Regions from separate parts of the Homo sapiens genome. Here all the other regions are linked to region 1. Evidence: fine-mapped expression QTL. A gene starts in region 1. Each other region holds a variant in brackets. All regions are shown on one strand. Distances are between the middles of the regions. Region 1 holds the start of ANO7 (anoctamin 7). Region 2 overlaps FARP2 (FERM, ARH/RhoGEF and pleckstrin domain protein 2). Region 3 overlaps ANO7 (anoctamin 7).

The links. PIP is the estimated chance that this variant, and not a neighbour inherited with it, causes the effect. A credible set is the group of variants that fine-mapping cannot tell apart.
Region 2: its variant is the best candidate, but not a certain one, in a credible set for the expression of ANO7 in substantia nigra (GTEx, PIP 0.83).
Region 3: its variant is the best candidate, but not a certain one, in a credible set for the expression of ANO7 in esophagus mucosa (GTEx, PIP 0.72).

Annotation. Positions count from the first base shown.
Region 1 is chr2:241,185,416-241,191,407 of GRCh38, forward strand. It overlaps ANO7 (anoctamin 7), which reads left to right and starts at 3,262. Exons shown (of 25, transcript NM_001370694.2): 1 at 3,262-3,351; 2 at 4,642-4,756; 3 at 5,779-5,836. The coding sequence starts at 4,649. It overlaps LOC105373971 (a long non-coding RNA gene), which reads right to left and starts at 3,007. Exons shown (of 3, transcript XR_924064.3): 1 at 2,861-3,007; 2 at 549-693. RefSeq lists enhancers at 814-1,336, 2,532-3,216, 3,217-3,900, 4,834-5,334, 5,335-5,835.
Region 2 is chr2:241,408,529-241,414,520 of GRCh38, forward strand. FARP2 (FERM, ARH/RhoGEF and pleckstrin domain protein 2) reads left to right here. Exons shown (of 27, transcript NM_014808.4): 6 at 2,505-2,602; 7 at 4,779-4,893. Among named protein-coding and RNA genes, the nearest start is that of FARP2, 55 kb to the left of the region's middle. The variant A/G (reference allele first, on the strand shown) is at 2,994.
Region 3 is chr2:241,209,902-241,215,893 of GRCh38, forward strand. It overlaps ANO7 (anoctamin 7), which reads left to right. Exons shown (of 25, transcript NM_001370694.2): 14 at 394-492; 15 at 567-669; 16 at 2,193-2,304; 17 at 2,671-2,725; 18 at 4,904-5,001. Among named protein-coding and RNA genes, the nearest start is that of ANO7, 24 kb to the left of the region's middle. RefSeq lists an enhancer at 3,199-3,758. The variant C/G (reference allele first, on the strand shown) is at 2,475.

The DNA.
Region 1 (5,992 bases):
TAGCACTCCAGCCTGGGCGACAGAGTGAGACCCTGTCTCACACCCCCAAAAAAGAAAAAAGAATGTGGGAAGGCGGATATGTGAGCTAGCAGTAGAGAAAACTCCCCAAGGCCGGGTGCGGTGGCTCATGCCTGTAATCCCAGCACTTTGGGAGGCCGAGGTGGGCAGATCACAAGGTCAGGAGTTCGAGACCAGCCTGGCCAACATAGTGAAACCCCGTCTCTACTAAAAATACAAAAAATTAGCCGGGCATGGTGGCAGGCACCTGTAATCCCAGCTACTCGAGGAGGCTGAAGCAAGAGAATTGCTTGAACCCAGGAGGTGGAGGTTGCAGTGAGCTGAGATTGCGCCATTGCACCCCAGCCTGGCCAACAGAGCAAGACTCTATCTCGAAAAAAAAACTCCACAAACACAACTGTAAGACAAGATTTTGATGGGTTTATTTACATAAAATTTTACATAGAACAAAAATAATGAATAATACCTGAATAATGGCAACAGTAGATTAAGAGAAGGCGTTTGCAGCTTTTAAAACTGGCAAGGCTTACCATTTAGAACTCCCACACATCAAATAAAGGAGACAGGAATCCTGACGGAAACGCAGGCCAAGGGCCAGAGTGGGCAACTCAGACACCAGGGGCCAGTGGCCTGTGTGGAGCCGCCGCTCACAGGAAGCTGGGCTGCTGGCTGCACCTGCAGACAGGAAGGTTAGAAAGCGGGCAGTGCAGGCATCCAAGAGTCTGTCCCCTGCGACCCAGCCACCGTCCGTCCAGCAGGGCTCCCATGTGGCTGGGGCGCAGTGCCAGGGTCCTCATGGAGGGAGCCCTGCACGCGCCTCCAGCCTCAGAAGGAGCCTCAGAAAGAGGCTGAACTTCAGTGTGGGCTCTTCACCACCACTTCCACCTCCACTAACTACACCCTAAGTATGTCCATAAATGTTACAGCCAGCCGGGCACGGTGGCTCACGCCTGGAATCCCAGCACTTTGGGAGGCCGAGGCGGGCGGATCACGAGGTCAGGAGATCAAGACCATCCTGGCTAACAAGGTGAAACCCCGTCTCTACTAAAAATATAAAAAATTAGCCGGGCGTGGTGGCGGGCGCCTGTAGTCCCAGCTACTCCGGAGGCTGAGCCAGGAGAATGGCATGAACCCGGGAGGCAGAGCTTGCAGTGAGCCGAGATGGCGCCATTGCACTCCAGCCTGGGCGACAGAGCGAGACTCCGTCTCAAAAAAAAAAATGTTACAGCCAAAGAAAGATGGTGCAGCAGATTCTGGGCCTGGGCTCTTCCCAAGGCCTGGAACCTGGCGGGCCCCCTGTGCTGGTTGCGGCTTTTCTCCCTCCCTCCCTTCCTTCCTTTCCCTCAGAAGTAACACAACTTGAAAAAACCACCCACCCAAACAGAGTTGTATGAAGTAAAAATGGAAAGACACTCCTCAGGGCCGAACCCCCTTTAGGTGTTGTGCGTGCACTGTCGCTGAAAGGGCTCCCACTGGGGTGTGGTCACCTCCAGCAGCCGGCCCTGAAGCTCTTGAGTAGACAGCCCTGAGGCCACCAGAGCCACTTTGTCACCAAGAGCAGAGAGCCAGGAGCTCCTGGGAGGTGGCATGTCTTCCTGGGAGGGTCCTTGGCCAATGACTGAGCAGAGTAAGAGCCTACAGTTGCATCCAGGTGAGGAAACGCTTCGTCTTGCCTCCCCTGCAGAGTGCCCATGGCAGGCTGAGGCCACCCTCCACAGGTCTTGGGGAGATGGTGCCCCGCTCATCCTCCCTCCCCTCCTGCCTCCCGACTCCTTTCCTGGTTTCTGGAGCACTTCCCCAGTCCAGCCCTCGTCCAGGGATCCACCTCAGGCGCCTGCAGGCTGAGCTTGGCCAAGCAGAGACCTCTCATGCAGATGCCCTGAGGCCCAGGGCCCCAAGGTCCTGCCGCCCAGGCTCTGCTGGTGCTGACAGGGAACCCGGCCTGCAGGGCCTTCCCGCTGTTCCGAGGCACAACACAGGTCCAAGAACAGGGCCCCTTGGGAGGTGCCAAGCACAGAGGGGCATAGGTATAAGGGAAAGCTGCAGCCAGGATGAGGGTCCGCCTGGAGGGATTTCAACAGGCAGAAGGGGGCACCTGGAACAGCAAGCTGAGCTTGGGGCTCCCCAGTGCAGTTGTGCATGGAGGGCGAGGAGCACGGGTGGTAGGTTCTCAGACACTGCCAGGCACCAAGGAGGAAAGGGGGAGGGGGAGGGAGAGGGGAAGAGGAGGGGCGGGGAGAAAGGATAGGAGGAGAAGGAGGAGGAGAGGGAGAAGTGGGGGGAGGGGGAGAAACAGGAGGAGGGGAGTGGGGAGAAAGGAGGAGAAGGAAGAGGAGAGGGAGAAGTGGGGGGGAGGGGGAGAAACGATAGGAGGAGGGGGAGTGGGGAGAAAGAGGAGGAGGAGGAGGAGTTGGGGGGAGAAATGATAGGAGGAGAGGGAGAGGGGAGAACGGATAGGAGGAGAAGGAGAGGGAGGAGTAGGGGGGAGAAACAATAGGAGGAGAAGGAGGAGAGGGAAGGTGGGGAGAAAGGATAGGAGGAGGGGGAGAAAGGAGGAGGGGGAGGAGGGCTAGGAGGAGAAAGAGGAGGGCTAGGAGGAGAATGAGGACGAGGAGGAGGGCGGAAAGGATGGGAGGAAGGCTAGGACCCCTCCTGTCCTTTTGCAGATGGGGCCCTGAGCATGGGATGTGCCTGAGGTCACCCCTCAGGCATTAGCAGAGCCAGCAGTGTGATCTGGGTCTCCCAATCTCCCCAGCCCCCGGGTGAAACCCTGGCCCACCACTCAGCACATGCTACGTAACCTCAAGGAGCCTCAGTTTCCCCCCACATAAACAGAGCTTACGAGGTCTGCCTGGCAAGGCTTCCAGCAGAGGTGGCACTTGTGGCTGTTCCTGTGGAATCCCACCTCCTCGAGACCCTCCAAGGCAGCAACTATGACAGCTGATGCCAGCCCTGAAATCTCTAAGCAAATAAGGTTCCCAGGAGGACGGCAGCATTTGCATGCGGGTGTGTGAAAGCCCAGCCAAGTGGGCTGCCTCTGTCTGCAGCTCTGAGCCCCACACCCCCTATTTAAACAAAGATAGATCCTGCTCCAGGAGCCGGGAAGCCTTGCCCTGGCCAGCTGTGCTGGGCACCTCCCCTGCCTGCTTCCTGGCCCACTTGCAGGCAAGGTGAGGGCATGCGAATGGCTGCCACTGCCTGGGCGGGGCTCCAAGGGCCACCCCTCCCCACCCTCTGTCCCGCAGTGAGGACGGGACTCTACTGCCGAGACCAGGCTCACGCTGAGAGGTGGGCCATGACCTCCGAGACCTCTTCCGGAAGCCACTGTGCCAGGTGGGGACCCAGCCTAGACGTGTGGGCCACAGGGAGAAGGTGGAGCGTTGGACTCTAGGGAGGCAGGGCGGCACCCCAGCCCACCGGGACTTTCACACACCCTGGCCTGTGGGGAGGCAGTGCCAGGGCCCGCCCTGGTCCCCAAAGCCCCTTGGGGCACGAGGAGGGACACACACTCAGTGCGGCTCTGGACGGGGTACACCCAGCTGGGGTTGGCTTCCTGCCTGCCCAGGGGCTCCCCCATGGAGCAGGTCCCTTCGTTGGGGTGGGGGGCATCCCCATTCTTTCTGCAGAGAGCTCTGAGGAGGGGCCCGCCTGCCCACCACAGAAGGATGGGGGCATGAGGGGCTGCTGGGTGGCCGAAACTCCTCGGGGACTTTCCTCCAGGAACACCCCACAGTCCGTAGTGAGGCTCCCAGCCTGGGGCCGGGGCCGAGTCCTAACACTGAGACCTGGCTCGGGCTTCAGGGTTAGGCAGGTGCAGGCGGCCCAGGCTCAGTCTCTGTCCCTCTGGGCCTCCGCTAATGTGAAGTGAAGGGTAGAACTAGAAGGCTGCCCCTCCGACCTCCTGCGGCGCCTCCATGGTCACACCCTCCGGTCATCGTCGCAGCTCCAAATGCCAGCCCCAGCTCGAACCCTCTCCTTCCAGGGCCACAGATGTCGTGCTCCTGGCCCCGTTTTGCCAGCCCAAGACTAGGAGCCACGGCACCTGTCCTCCCACAGAGAGAGACCCCCGGGGCGAAGGTGCGGGAGGAAGCTGGGACCCCCAAGAGTTGTGAGGCCGGGCTCCATCAGGCCCGCCTTGCTGGGGAGCTCAGGGCCTATGGGTCCTGGCACTGGGTCCTCAGGCCATGAGCGAAGGCAGGCGACTTGAGGGGTTTCCTGTCCCTGGCTCACATGGCTCCACCCTACGGATAAGAGAGGGAGAGGTGTCTGTACTCCAGGCCCACCTTTCTGGGCCTTCTCAGGCTCCACTGAGTACCCAGGCAGAGTGGACGGCATTCAGGGCTGGGGGACACGGGCACTCACTGGATGGACAGACAGACGCCTGCTGTGCCAGGCCTGCCAGACGCTCCCGCCCCGGCACTGGTTTCTTCCTGGAGCTCGTGGCTGGCTAGGGGGTTCTCCATGTGCTCATGGCCAGGAGAGTCTGCCGAGCCAGCCCAGCCCCATTCTACTCCGAGTCGAGTCTGTAAAGTGAGCTCACTGCAGGCAGTGTGGTGGCCCCAGGAACGGGTCTCACCCATCCCCTCTCTGACCCCCATCCCCACCCGGCCTTGCTGGGTGCAGGAGCAGGATGCTGCGGCGACGGGCCCAGGAAGAGGACAGCACCGTCCTGATCGATGTGAGCCCCCCTGAGGCAGAGAAGAGGGGCTCTTACGGGAGCACAGCCCACGCCTCGGAGGTAACAGCACCCAGGAGACTGTGGTGCGACTTGAGAGGTCCTCCCCTGCCTGGGTCTATGCCCCCACCCTGGGCCCAGAGCCTCTGGGGGTGGATGGGCATCACCGTGTTTCTCCTGCATCCCCCGGCAACCCCCAAGCCCTCGCCACCCAGTCCTCAACACACACAGTCAGATCACCGCTCTCCTGGCCTGGCCTGGCTGTGGAGAACCGAGCAGAACCCACTGATGTTCAGACAGGAGCTCCAGGAGGGTAAGGGGGGCCTGGCCAGGCAAAGGCAAGACCAGGGCGGGGCCCTCCCTGTGGTGTCAGTCCCAGTCAGTGCAGGGCCACAGCAGCACCCAGGGCCATCTGTAGGGCTCCACCTTGTCACTAGGAGGCCATGGATGCGCTGTGAGCCTGTGGGGAGAGGCTGGGTCCCGGGCCTTCAAGGCCATGCGGGAGGCCCTGGCCGTGGAGGGCCCTCTTCCTGGTTCTCCTGGGCCACACGTCTGCCCCAGCAGCCTGCGGGTGGACACGGGACCCCTTCCTGCCGCCCCAAGCACAGCTGAGATGAGCCTCCAGGGAGGGCACAGGGCCTCTCACCTCAAGCATCCAGACACTCTCGGTCGCCATGGCCAACTCTGTCCTCAGGGCCCCTTTGGGAGCAGTCCGGCTCCCCTCTGCCCCTGGAGGCCAGCAAGGCAGGCACCCCTGGTCCTGGCCATGCTTCCCGCCAACCTGACCCTTGCCATGGGCCTGGCCCAAGGAGGAGGGGAGCCGGCTGGAGGCCCAGGGCTGGTGGTGCCCTCTGGCCCTGCCTGCCGCTCCCCGCGCCTGCGCATCCTGTGCCCCCACACAGCAGAGGGGCTTCCCCCTCCACCCCCTACCCACCCGCCGAACATTCTTCTGTGGTCCTGAGTGTTCTGGGGCAGGGCGGGGACGGGTTGGAGGCGAGGACGGCTTCAGGGTGGGGCGGGGTGGGTGTAGTTGTCGAGGGCAGATGCTGATGCTGATATGCTTCTCCATCCTCCATGCCTTCCAGCCAGGTGGACAGCAAGCGGCCGCCTGCAGAGCTGGGAGTCCTGCCAAGCCCCGGATCGGTGAGCCCCTCCCAGCACCTGTACCACACCCGTGTTGGTCCTGAGGGTGGGGACACCACGGGGGTGCCCCCAGGGGCAGCAGGCTGGGGTAGCCTCCTCAGTAGCCACTCTGGGGCCAGTTGCTTGGGGATGGGGCACTGGGGTGAGGGCCTCGGG
Region 2 (5,992 bases), 220 kb after region 1:
GAAACTCTGTCTCAAAAAAAAAAAAAAAGAAAATATTAACAATTGTTTCATCTGGACAGTAAGGTTATGGAAGGTTTTTCTTTGTATTTTTTGTATTTGTTCACATATCAATTATATTATGAAGAATAGAGGAATAACCTAAAAAGCAACTGAAAACCCAAAATTAGATATAAAAGAGAACTATGATGTTGTAGTGGTATCAATAACTTTTTTGCCTTCTGGCTAAAAGTGTACTCATAAATGAATCAGATGTCTTATGAACTCTCTTTTAAAGGTTTCTGCATATCATTTTAGCAACACAAAATCGTAGAATGTCAGCTGCAAGGAAATGGAGAGACCACATTAGTTCACCCTCTTATTTTTAAAGGTTTAGGAAACTCCAAAGATGGCAAAAAGTATTTTTATGAGTGACCATAGATCTTAATAGTGTATTAAATGCCTGACATTTACCAAAAAAAAAGTCTCTTTTGAGGGAATCACTTTTAAATAGAGATAGATAGATAGATAGATGATAGATAGATAGATAGATAGATAGATAGATAGATAGATACCTGAAAATGATGGATAACAAAGTGTCCCCTCATTCAGGATCCTGGGTCTCAAGTTCTAGGACTCATGCTGATAACTCAGTATTATAGTTACTCCCTTCTCCCCCATATTTATGTGGAGGATTCTTTTTTCTGTTTATAAAAATGTACATGTTTGTGGTAAAAGAATTTTTTTTCCAAATAAAGCTAAGGGCCAGGTGCAACGGCTCACACCTGTAATTCCAGCACTTCAGGACGCCAAGGTGGGGGGATCAGTTGAGCTCAGGAGTTCAAGACCAGCCTAGGCAACATGGGGAGACCTCATCTCTACAAAATATCAAAAAATTAGCCAGGCATGGTGGCATGCACCTGTAGTCCAGCTACTCTGGAGGCTGAGGCAGGAGTATCACTTGAGCCCAGGAGGTTGAGGCTGCAGTGAGCTGTGGTAGCGCCACTGCACTCCAGCCTGGGCAATAGAGTGAGAGCCTGTCTCAAAAAAAATAAGTAAACAAAGATAAGTAAAAAGTAAAAGTTCTCCATTTACTCAGCACCTTATTCTCCGCATAAGTACGTATCTTTCAGATGAAAGCATAGATGTGCAATAAACACATAGATATCAGAACTTTAAAGAAATTACAAATGTTATAAAACAATATCAAATGATACGTATTGAACTGTAGGTTGATTTTTCCCCCCACTTATTAAGCATGCTGTGGACATTTTTCCATATCGTATATAAAAATATACTAAATTAGGCTGTAACATAATTTCATCATTCTCATATTCATCCATATTTCCAATATTTCTCTGTTATAATGCTGCAGAGAAACATTGTTCACATACCTTTGTGAACTATGGGAATATTAGTCTAGGAAAGTTTGTAGAAATGGAATTGCTGTGTTAAAGGGTATGTACATCCTGAATTTTAAGAGAATGTGGTAAATTTTAATATTGTGCACTGGGGCATGAATTCCACTAGGGACAGGGGGTTGGTCTTGCTTACCTTTGCATTTCCAGCTCCCAGAACAGTACCTAGAACGTAATTCACGCTCAGTAATTATTTGCTGATGGAATAAATGAACATATAAATATTTTCAATTGCCTTCTCTCATTACATTCTCACTAATGGTATTCCAAAGTGCCTGTTTCTCAGATCCTAGCCAAGACCAGATATTATCAATCCGTTAAAAAATTTCACAGCCATGCTTTAAGCTGTGTTTTCATTGGATATTTCTCCTATTTCATCCAAAACTGTGAGTGCAGTTTTATGTGACTAACAGAAGTAATGTGAATTTGTGACCTTCCTCCTTGAAGGTATGGCTGCAGATGTGTAATTATATGTGGGTAGATGGTATGCCTGAAAAGGCTAATTTCTTTCTTTTTTTTTTTTTTCGAGACAGAGTTTCGCTCTTGTTGCCTAACATGGAGTGCAGTGGCATGATCTCAGCTCACTGCAACCTCTGCATCCGGGTTCAGGCGATTCTCCTGCCTCAGCCTCCCAAGTAGCTGGGATTACAGGTGTGCACACCACGCCCAGGTGGTTTTTGCACTTTTTTTAGAGACAGGGTTTCACAGTGTTGGTCAGGCTGGTCTCGAACTCCTGACCTCAGGTGATCCACCCGCCCCAGCCTCCCAAAGTGCTGGGATTACAGGCGGGAGCCATCGCCCCTGGCCAATTTCTTTTTTTTATTGTTCACATCAGAGTGCCTTAGTGTGTTCAGCACTTCCTTTGCGCTCTCCCATGTGTGTGACTCAGTCTGCTGAGTTGGTTTATCATCTGACCTTCACTTGGTGACTGTTTGTTTCATGAAAGGCCTTTTGTGACTTTGCTGTTTCGTGACCGCCTTGCGTTTTGCTCACTGTTGGGTCACTGCCACTTCCCAGGGCTCATTTGCTGTCTTGCTGTGGAGACATGTCTATGTTACATTCAGAGAACATTTGGAATTGATCTCTGTCTTATTTTGAACTCTCTTCTAGATACTTGTTTGCCTTGCAACTTAAGAGAGACCTGCTGGAAGAGCGTTTGACCTGTGCTGACACCACAGCGGCCCTTCTCACGTCCCATCTCCTGCAGTGTGAGTATCTCCCCGCCAGCGGGGAGCATTCACTGACCATGGCACAGATATACCCGCACTCAGAACTACAATTAGTTGCTGATGTATTTGCCTAGTTAGTGAGCCTGACCATAGAATGAGGTGTTTCAACTTCAGTGTTTTTTATAAGCTACAGATTAACTTCTGTAAAGTGGAACTCCTTGAGGCAAATAGTTTCCACGTAGCAAACACAGGCCAAGGCCAAAATCTGTAGCCACGTTCCTTCTTTTGGGTTGTCTCTCATTTATGCCTTTGTGCATTTTACCAGCAATGCATATTCAGTCTAAGAGTCAGAATATAAACCAAACTCTGAGCAAACCCTGGAAAGGGCCTCACTGGGATAAAAGTTACAGTCCTCTCAGATTAGTAAAGC[A/G]TTAGCCATGAAGGAAAAAGAAGACATTTCTTCAGTATCTCACACAGATCAAGAGATGGTTCAGAACTGTGTCAAGAATTATAGTTACTTCAAAAATAAACCATGAGAAGTGTAAGAGGAGGTTCTGGCACCTTGCCGAGCCCCCAGCGATGGGAATAGAAAAACAGAAATACCCACATTGCTCCTGGACTAGAGGTGGGACCACAGCTAGCACAGAACTAATGTTTCTGAAATTTGAATCCAGGAAATATGACATAGAAAGTTCCAAAATTTTAGGAATTAATAAGTATATAGGTTATTTGCAGCTTCCTTGGTCCTTCCCCAGACATACCTTCTTCAAATAATAAATTTTATTATGGGTTTGCTATCCTCCACCAGGGGACGTGTTGATTAATAAAAGTTTTCAAAGTGACTTTGGTTCTTACTCATTTGGCTGAAAGACTTCTCAGGTAGACACATGGCAACGAATGCAATGTATGACTGAACCAGATCTTTTTGCTATAAAAAACATAATTGGGCAGTTGGTAAAATATGACTAGGGTCCACATCTGGGATGGAGCCTCAGATCGTGGCCCTGTTCCTGATCTGGGTAGTTTTACAAGGCTGCGGGTAAGAATATTGTATTAGTCCATTTCCACACTGCTGATAGAGATGTGGCGGCAGCGAGAGAGGCTTGTACAGGGAAATGGCCCCTTGTAAAATCATCAGATCTCATGAAAGTCTCACTATTACAAGAACAGCACGGAAAAGATCCGCCCCCATGAGTCAGTTACCTCCCACTGGGTCCCTCCCACAGTAAGTGGGACTTGTGGGAGTTATAATTCAAGATGAGATTTGGGTGGGAACACAGCCAAACCGTATCAAATGTCATAGTTTATAGGAAGTCCATACTGAAGTATGGCAAGTAACATGTTAGCAACTCACTCTCAAATGGCTCAAAGGAGAAAAAACTCTTGTACTGTGCTTGTAACTTCTCTGTGAATATGAGATTGTCTAAAAATAAAAGCATATTGCTTTAAATTATTGAACTTTATGTTATTAAGACATTGTGGCCTTAAAATACATGAAATTAGACAGAGACATTATTCATCAAGAAATTTGAGAAGGTCTGAAGGAAAAAAATCATTTAAAATACATTATCCTAAAATAAATAAAATACTTCAGCCTGATCATGATAATCTTGAGACAATTTAGGTTTAAGGTGTAGTTTAAAAATAATAGTAGTCCAGGTGCAGTAGCTCATGCCTATATTCCCAGCACATTTGGGAGGCCAAGGCAGGAGGATTGCTTAAGTCCAGGAGTTTGAGACCAGCCTGGGCAATGTGGCAAAACCTTATCTCTACAAAAAATACAAAAATTAGCTGGGCATGATGGTGCTTACCTATAGTCCCAGCTACTTAGGAGGCTGAGGCGGGCAGATTGCTTGAGTCCAGAAGGTTGAGGCTGCAGTGAGTAGTGATTGCACCATTGCACTCCAGCCTGGTCAACAGAACGAGACCTTGTGTCAAAATAATAATAAACACATTAAACTCATCAATGTTTGCCTCCCTGGAGTTACTAATCAGGCCTTTGTTCTTCAAGAAATCCTCTTCACTTCCCATTATATTTGCCTTTTAACAGCATAAAATATTTGGAAAAATTAAATAAAAAATCTTGCTTTTTTAGGGATATATTCTTTTGCTACAAATTTGGGATAATTTTTTTTTACTTTTAATGTATGCAATGACACATACAAATGCTTGTAGTTTATTTAAAAATTAGTTACTTACTTTTAACCTATCTCAGCGGAAATAGGAGATTACGATGAAACGCTGGACCGAGAGCACCTCAAAGTGAACGAGTATTTGCCTGGCCAGCAGCACTGCCTTGAGAAGATACTAGAATTCCATCAGAAGCACGTGTAAGTCATCACAATTGTCTGTCAACACATTGTCACCACAGTAATGACTAAAGAGTGTGTAACGAGAAAGGACTGTTGTCGTGACTTCTGCAAGATTCTAACATAAGGACCATTGCTCCTGGCCTCAGGATGTGCAGCTGCTGCCAGAGGCAGCTTGGCAGACACACAGACACACAGGTGCCCTGGCCTGAAGCACCTTCACACCTGCACGATGTGCTGCTTTAGAAGGTGCTGGAAGAAGCCAGGCACGGTGGCTCATGCCTGTTATCCCAGCACCCTGGGAGGCTGAGGCAGGTGGATTGCCTGAGGTCAGGAGTTTGAGACCAGCCTGGCCAACATAGTGAGACCCCATCTCTACTAAAAATACAAAAAATTAGCTGGGCTAATGGCAGGCACCTGTAGTCCCAGCTACTCAGGAGGTGAGGCAGGAGAATCGCTTGAACCCAGGAGGTGGAGGTTACAGTGAGACAAGATCGTGCCACTACACTCCAGCCTGGCACCAGAGTGAAACTCCGTCTCAAAAAAAAAAAAAAAGGTGCTGGAAAAGACATCAGGGTCTGGGGGAGGAGGATGCTACTGAGCAGGATGGGGTGGCTATTGGGGGGGTGTCAGCTGCTGCAGTGTCTCTGCAGTGTGGCAGAAAGAGTCCTCTACGGGGAAGACACTGTGCTGTGGTAGAGGAGGAGGGGACTGTGTGAGGCTAACAGTGTCTGCCTGTGTCAGGGCATTGGGAATCGCCTGGCACCCATGGCCTTCATCTCATCTTGTTTTGATTTCTCTAAGACTTGACACTGGTGGGTTTTTCTGGATGGAAGTGATAGAGACCTAGAGAAGGAGTGCTAGCTAAGGGGAAAAGGATTGAAGAACGGTATGGGAAAGGGCTCTGGGCTCTGGCCCAGGTGGCTGGGAGCTTTAGTCACCAAAGGGGAGCACTCAGCTGGTGAAAGTGAGTCAGGAGGACTTAGCCTTGCCTTTGTGACACATCCTGTTGAGATGCAGGTTTGTTTGTCAGATCATGTATGTTCATGTGTGTCGTTAAGGCTCTACCGGGACCTGCTGGCAGCTGCCCTTTCACACCTTCAAAGTATGAGTGCCAGCT
Region 3 (5,992 bases), 24 kb after region 1:
AAAGAGAGGCGGGCACCCCAGCAGGGCCATTCACTGCACCCTGTCTTGCCTTCCAGCCAAAGGGGCTTCCTAATAGGACCTCTCACTCCCCTGCCAAGATGTCAGGAATCCCCAATTCCTGGGATGGGATGGCTCTCCAACACTCACAGTGGCTGCCTTGACACCCAGATGTGGCCCAGCCTCTAACTCTAACCCCACCCCACCTCTGCCTGAGCAACTCATCAGGAAGGACATAGCCTGGGAGCACAGCCGGGGCTGGAGGCAGGGGCCTTCCTAGAGGTGGCAGTGCTGGGGCCAGCAGTGGACTAGAAGAGCTGTCGGGGGCCATGGCCTGAGGGTGCTGGGGTGCCCAAGACACCGTGAAGGGTCTCACGGGCCTCCCTGCCCCCGCAGGTGGCCGTGGTGGTCATGTGCCTCGTGTCTATCATCCTGTACCGTGCCATCATGGCCATCGTGGTGTCCAGGTCGGGCAACACCCTTCTCGCAGCCTGGGTGAGCCTCTGCTGCCTGCCTCGGGGGGCCCTGAGCGGCCCCTCATCCGGCTCTGACGGCCTGTCTCCCGTTAGGCCTCTCGCATCGCCAGCCTCACGGGGTCTGTAGTGAACCTCGTCTTCATCCTCATCCTCTCCAAGATCTATGTATCCCTGGCCCACGTCCTGACACGATGGGGTGAGTGGGCTGAGGCCGGCCAGGCACTGACCAGGGGCCCACCCTGCCGGCCGCCAGCCAGAACGTGACTTTCTCACTCACTGACACACATGGCCCTCATTTCTATTTCTTTCTTCTTTTTTCTTTTGAGACAGGATCTCACTCTGTTGCCCAAGCTGGAGTGCACTGGCACGATCATGGCTCACTGTAGCCTTGACCTCCCAGGCTCAAGGGATCCTCCTGCCTCAGCCTCCTCAGTACCTGGACCACTGTGCCCAGCTGAAATTTTTTTTTTTTTTGATAGAGACAGGGGTCTCACTGTGTGGCTCAGGCTGGTCTCGAGCTCCTGGCCTCAAGGGATCCTCCTGCCTAGGCCTCTCAAAGTGCTGGGATTACAGGCATGAGCCACAGCACCTGGTTTTCTTTCTCTTATTTTTTGTTTTTGGCACCCCAGGTGGGACACAAACAATCCCTGGGTTAGGAAGCCAGTGCTCCCTATTTCTAAATGTGGTACAGATTGGAGTTGTCTGAGCCTCCCCAGAGGCCCCCTTAAAAGAGCAGTGAGCAGGGCCTTCCTGGAGATAAAAGACCCTGGGGGCACTCCAGCACCCAAAGAGTTCTCACCCCTCCACAGGGCCCCCCTCCAGGCTGCAAGGTCCCCCAGGTGGGAGATGTCCCTCTAGGATAGGGCCGCTGAGCCTCTGTTGGGTGGTGTGGGGTATCGGCTGCTGGGCTGGGCAGCCACCTCTCAGTTCTTCCCTCCCCCTTCCTCTCCCATCGGTCTTTTTCTCTGTCTCATTTCCTGAGGACAAACACTTACGACCAACCTATTCATTCCATAAGCTGCTGCCTCTCACTAGCCCTGCTCTAGCCCTGGGGGTGAATAGTCTTGAACAAAAGCTGGCAGCCCCACCCTGGAGCCCAGGTTCTAGGAGAGGGGACAGAACTGGCTGCCTGCACAGCTACAGAGAATGGGAGAGGGCTTAAGTGCTGAGGAGGAAGTGCCTCCTGGTGGGTGGCCAGGGGAAGGTGGGTGTCAGGGAAAGACCTTTGCAGGTGGCAGGTGTCTCAGGGAGAGGTTCCTGGTTCTGGATGGCCAAGGGTAGGGCTCTGAGGGGAGCCACCCATTTGTTTCTGCAACTGTGGGGTTGCTGTGGGGTGTTGAGCCTCCCTCTTTCCCTCCTGTAACCTTCAGCCTTTGATGCTCCTGCCTCCGGCACCTGCACCGGAGCCCAGTCCGCTGCGCAGCCTTGGCACCGAGCCTCTATTCTGTTTCTCTGACCCATCCCCTGACCACTCACCCGTGTGCACCACATTCATTATTAGTGTTGGGATATAGGGTATTATCAATTTTCCCAACTCCTGTTAATCAACATGTTTTTGGGTGACTTCGGAAATGTCACACTTTGTCTCCTTCTTTTAAATATCTGGATGATATGGCCTTTTCCTCACCCGTGTGTGGCAAGGTGGTCCTAGGAGAGGGGGCCCCTAGTTGGATGCTGGTGACTCCCCCAGGGACTGAGCCCAGGCTCTCCATGCCACAGAAATGCACCGCACCCAGACCAAGTTCGAGGACGCCTTCACCCTCAAGGTGTTCATCTTCCAGTTCGTCAACTTCTACTCCTCACCCGTCTACATTGCCTTCTTCAAGGGCAGGTTGGTGGGCACCTCTCCCTCTGGCCACAGCTTGTCCCGGCTTAGTTCTGCTCATGTTTCCCGCTGCCTGGGTACCAGGCGTCATCCAGCCGTGCTCAGGCAGGTGGAGGACGGAACCGGAGACCCAGGCAGGGGACAGGGGCCCATGCCTCCTGGCACCTCTGAGCAAA[C/G]AGGGGCTGCCCACCTCTTGGTCCCTACCCAGCTCGGGGGTCCACAGGAGGCCCAGCTCACAACCGGGACTCTACGCCACAGTTCGTGCTTCCTCCAGGGCAGGTGCAGCAGCTCTGCTGAGGCCTCCAGAGCCCAGGGAAGTGGGAGGAGACAGGAAGGATCCCATCAAGGCTCATGATCTTGACTTTCTCCTAGGTTTGTGGGATACCCAGGCAACTACCACACCTTGTTTGGAGTCCGCAATGAGGAGGTGAGTGTGCCTGAGGCCCGGGACTGGGGGATGAGCTGTGTGCTTCCTCTCACTTCCATTCTTCCATTCGAGCTTTGATTTGCAGCAATTCCTCCCACCACCGGCTATTTCCATCGCCCAGCCAGGGCCAGCTGTGCAGCTGACCACTCAGGGCTCCCAGCCTCTCTTCACCACTTATTCTGACCCCCGATATGCCCCATTCAGAACCACACCAAAACACTCCAGGCCGGGCACAGTGGCTCACGCCTGTAATCTCAGCACTTAGGGAGGCTGAGGGAGGAGGATCGCTTAAGCCCAAGAGTACGAGACCAGCTTGGACAACATAGTGAGTCCTCATCGCCACAAAAATTAATAAAAAAGCAAACCAAAAACCCTACCCCACCCCAGCTGTCCCAGCCCGTATTACTCTTTCCCCATTTTAACCCAATTCACACCTGAGAAAAGTGTGAGCCATTACGGTGGGCGCAGAGCCTCTGGCACACAGGCCCGCAGAGGCTGGCCTCCTCATGGCACACGGCCCGCAGGGGCTGGCCTCCTCATGGCACACAGGCCCGCAGGGGCTGGCCTCCTCATGGCACACGGCCCGCAGGGGCTGGCCTCCTCATGGCACACAGGGGTCGCAGGGGCTGGCCTCCTCACAGGCTTGGCGTGCTGCCGCCATGGCTGTCAGGGATCTCCCTGTGGCCAGCTGTCCTCTCCCCATCAGCACAGTGGGCTCTGCCTGTGACTGTATCTCTAAGAGCCTTAGCTACTCCGTATCTCTGAGAGCCAGGCGTGAACCTGGTTTTTCAGAAAGCAAATGGAAGTTCACCTGGTGGAGGATGAAGCGTTGTTGTCACGGGGGTCCCTGCAAAGCAGACCCCAAGACAGAGATTCTGGTGCAAGTAACTGACGTGTGCATCACCCCAGAAGTAGTCTCCACTGTGCCACAGCCCCTCCAAGACACCGTAGAGAAGCCCTCAAAACTGTTCCCGACGCACAGCCCCTCCTGGGTGAGGGCCAGGCATGTCCCAGCAGCTGGGGTCGCAGGCAGCAGGGTGGGTGCATCTGGAGCCATCCACAGGTGGCCTCTGGGCTGGGCTGGGACCTAAGTGGACCCCTGCTGAGTGACCCCTGGCCTGAAAGACCTCTTCTCCTTTTGGAAGAGGAGGAGGAGGAGAGAAACTTCGCATGGGGTCTGGGCCATGAGCCAGCCCAACTGCAAAGTGGCTGCCCCCAAAGGGGTGGTGTCCATTTCATGTGAGAGGGGAAAGGGAAGGCTGGGGATGGAGTGGGGAGTGTGGCTGCGGGTGCCACAACGGACCAGCCAGAGGGCTCTCAATTGTTAAGTGGGAAAAGTTCCCAACTCAAACTGGCTTAAACGAAAAAGGGAGTTTTCGGCCAGGCGTGGTGGCTCATGCCTGTAATCCCAGCACTTTGGGAGGCCAAGGCAGGTGGATCATGAGGTCAGGAGTTCGAGAATAGCCTGGCCAATATGGTGAAATCCCGTCTCTACTAAAAATGCAAAAATTGGCCAGGCGTGATGGCACGCACCTGTAGTCTCAGCTACTCGGGAGGCTGAGGCAGAAGAATTGCTTGAACCCAGGAGGTGGAGGCTGCAGGGAGTTTTCTTGGCTCCTGTACTGAAAACGCTCAGGGCTACGCGGGCTTAGGTATGAATGATCCAGGTGTTAAAAATGCTGCACTGCTATTCCCAGCATTGCCTGTGTTCTCAGAAAGATTATCCCCATCTGGAGGGAAGGTGCCCTGCAGTGCGGCCGACACTCTCGGACTTAGCACCCCTTGCAAGGCACGTGTTCCCAGGAACTCCACCTCCCACTGGCTCGAACTGGGTCACCGATTGGTGGGGCCTGCCTCGTGGGTCTGTCTTGAAGCCAGAGGCTACAGTCAGCCCCATGTAACCCCTTGTGGGTCTCCAAAGGAAAACTGGGGTGCCATTAGGTACATATAGCAGTGCCCCCTGCAGCTTTCCAATGCAGTCTTCCAGCTGGACCTGGGGGCTCCTGTGAGGTCGGGAGGGAGTGTTATGGTGGGAGCATCTCTGCAACCCTCCAGGTGCCCAAGGCATGTCAGGAGGGAGGTGGGGGCCGGGATGAGGGCCAGCTTTGAGACAAGAAGGGATGCGTGGGTGAGTGGCTGGTCCCCCTCTCCCAGCTAACCTGAGCCCTGCTGCCGTAGTGCGCGGCTGGAGGCTGCCTGATCGAGCTGGCACAGGAGCTCCTGGTCATCATGGTGGGCAAGCAGGTCATCAACAACATGCAGGAGGTCCTCATCCCGTGAGTCCCCCACTCCTCCCTGGGTGGCATCCAAGGACCGAGGGACCCCAGAGCACCTGGCAGTAGCAGCCTCCAGCCCGGCCCTAGCTGGGAGAAGAGGTGAAGGGAAGGCACCTTGCCTGGGGAGGGGGAGGGGGAGTGTGCCCGGCCGTCTGCCCCGGGCTCTGGGCTGCCCGCCCTGCAGCTGCCCTGTGGCTGGCTGAGGTCTTCTGGGTTGTAGTTGTGGGAGACGCTACCCCTGGGACCAGCTTTGGCTGGGGAGGGGGTCTGGGCTCCTGGACCCAAGGCTGGGGTGATGGCTCTGTCCGTTCAGAGATGCTGCGGCTGGGCCAGAGTATTCCTTGGCATCCCCAGGCCCCAACGCAGCACAAGAGGGAGGAGGAAAAGGAGGTCCCAGGGTTGATCCTCAGACACACGTCTGCCTCAGATGCCCCTGCCAGGGACACCCTGACCACAAGGCTCCCATAGCCAGAGTCCTTCAAAGAGGCTGCCCAGGGCCTCGCCTCCCGCTCAAGGCCAGACTGACCTGAACGCCCTCCCAGCGCCCCCTGAACACCTGATCTGCCCCCAGAAGGCAGCTCCCAAATCAGCACTGACATTTCTGGGCCACCAGGAATAGCAGTTGGGAGATGGTGGCCATGCCACATCCCGAGAGATGGCCCTGCCTCTTGGAACTATTGGTGCTGTGAAACCACAAGACCATAAGGTGCAGGGTGGAGCTCTGTGCCTGGCAGGAGCAGGGCACGGATGAGTGACAGTGTGATAAGGCAACATGCACACATGCCCCTGTGTAGGACGAACCCAACACGTGGGCCTCCACATCTGCTTTCCCTGGGACACCACAGTCGTCCTCGTCCACTCCCTCCCAACCTTGGCAGAGCTCTTGGCACTGCTTTGCAATTCCGGGAGGAGCCCATTACCCCTAAAGCCTTAAGGAACAATGCGGGGGGCTGGGCGGGTGGACTGCCCTCCCACATCTGACCAACAGACA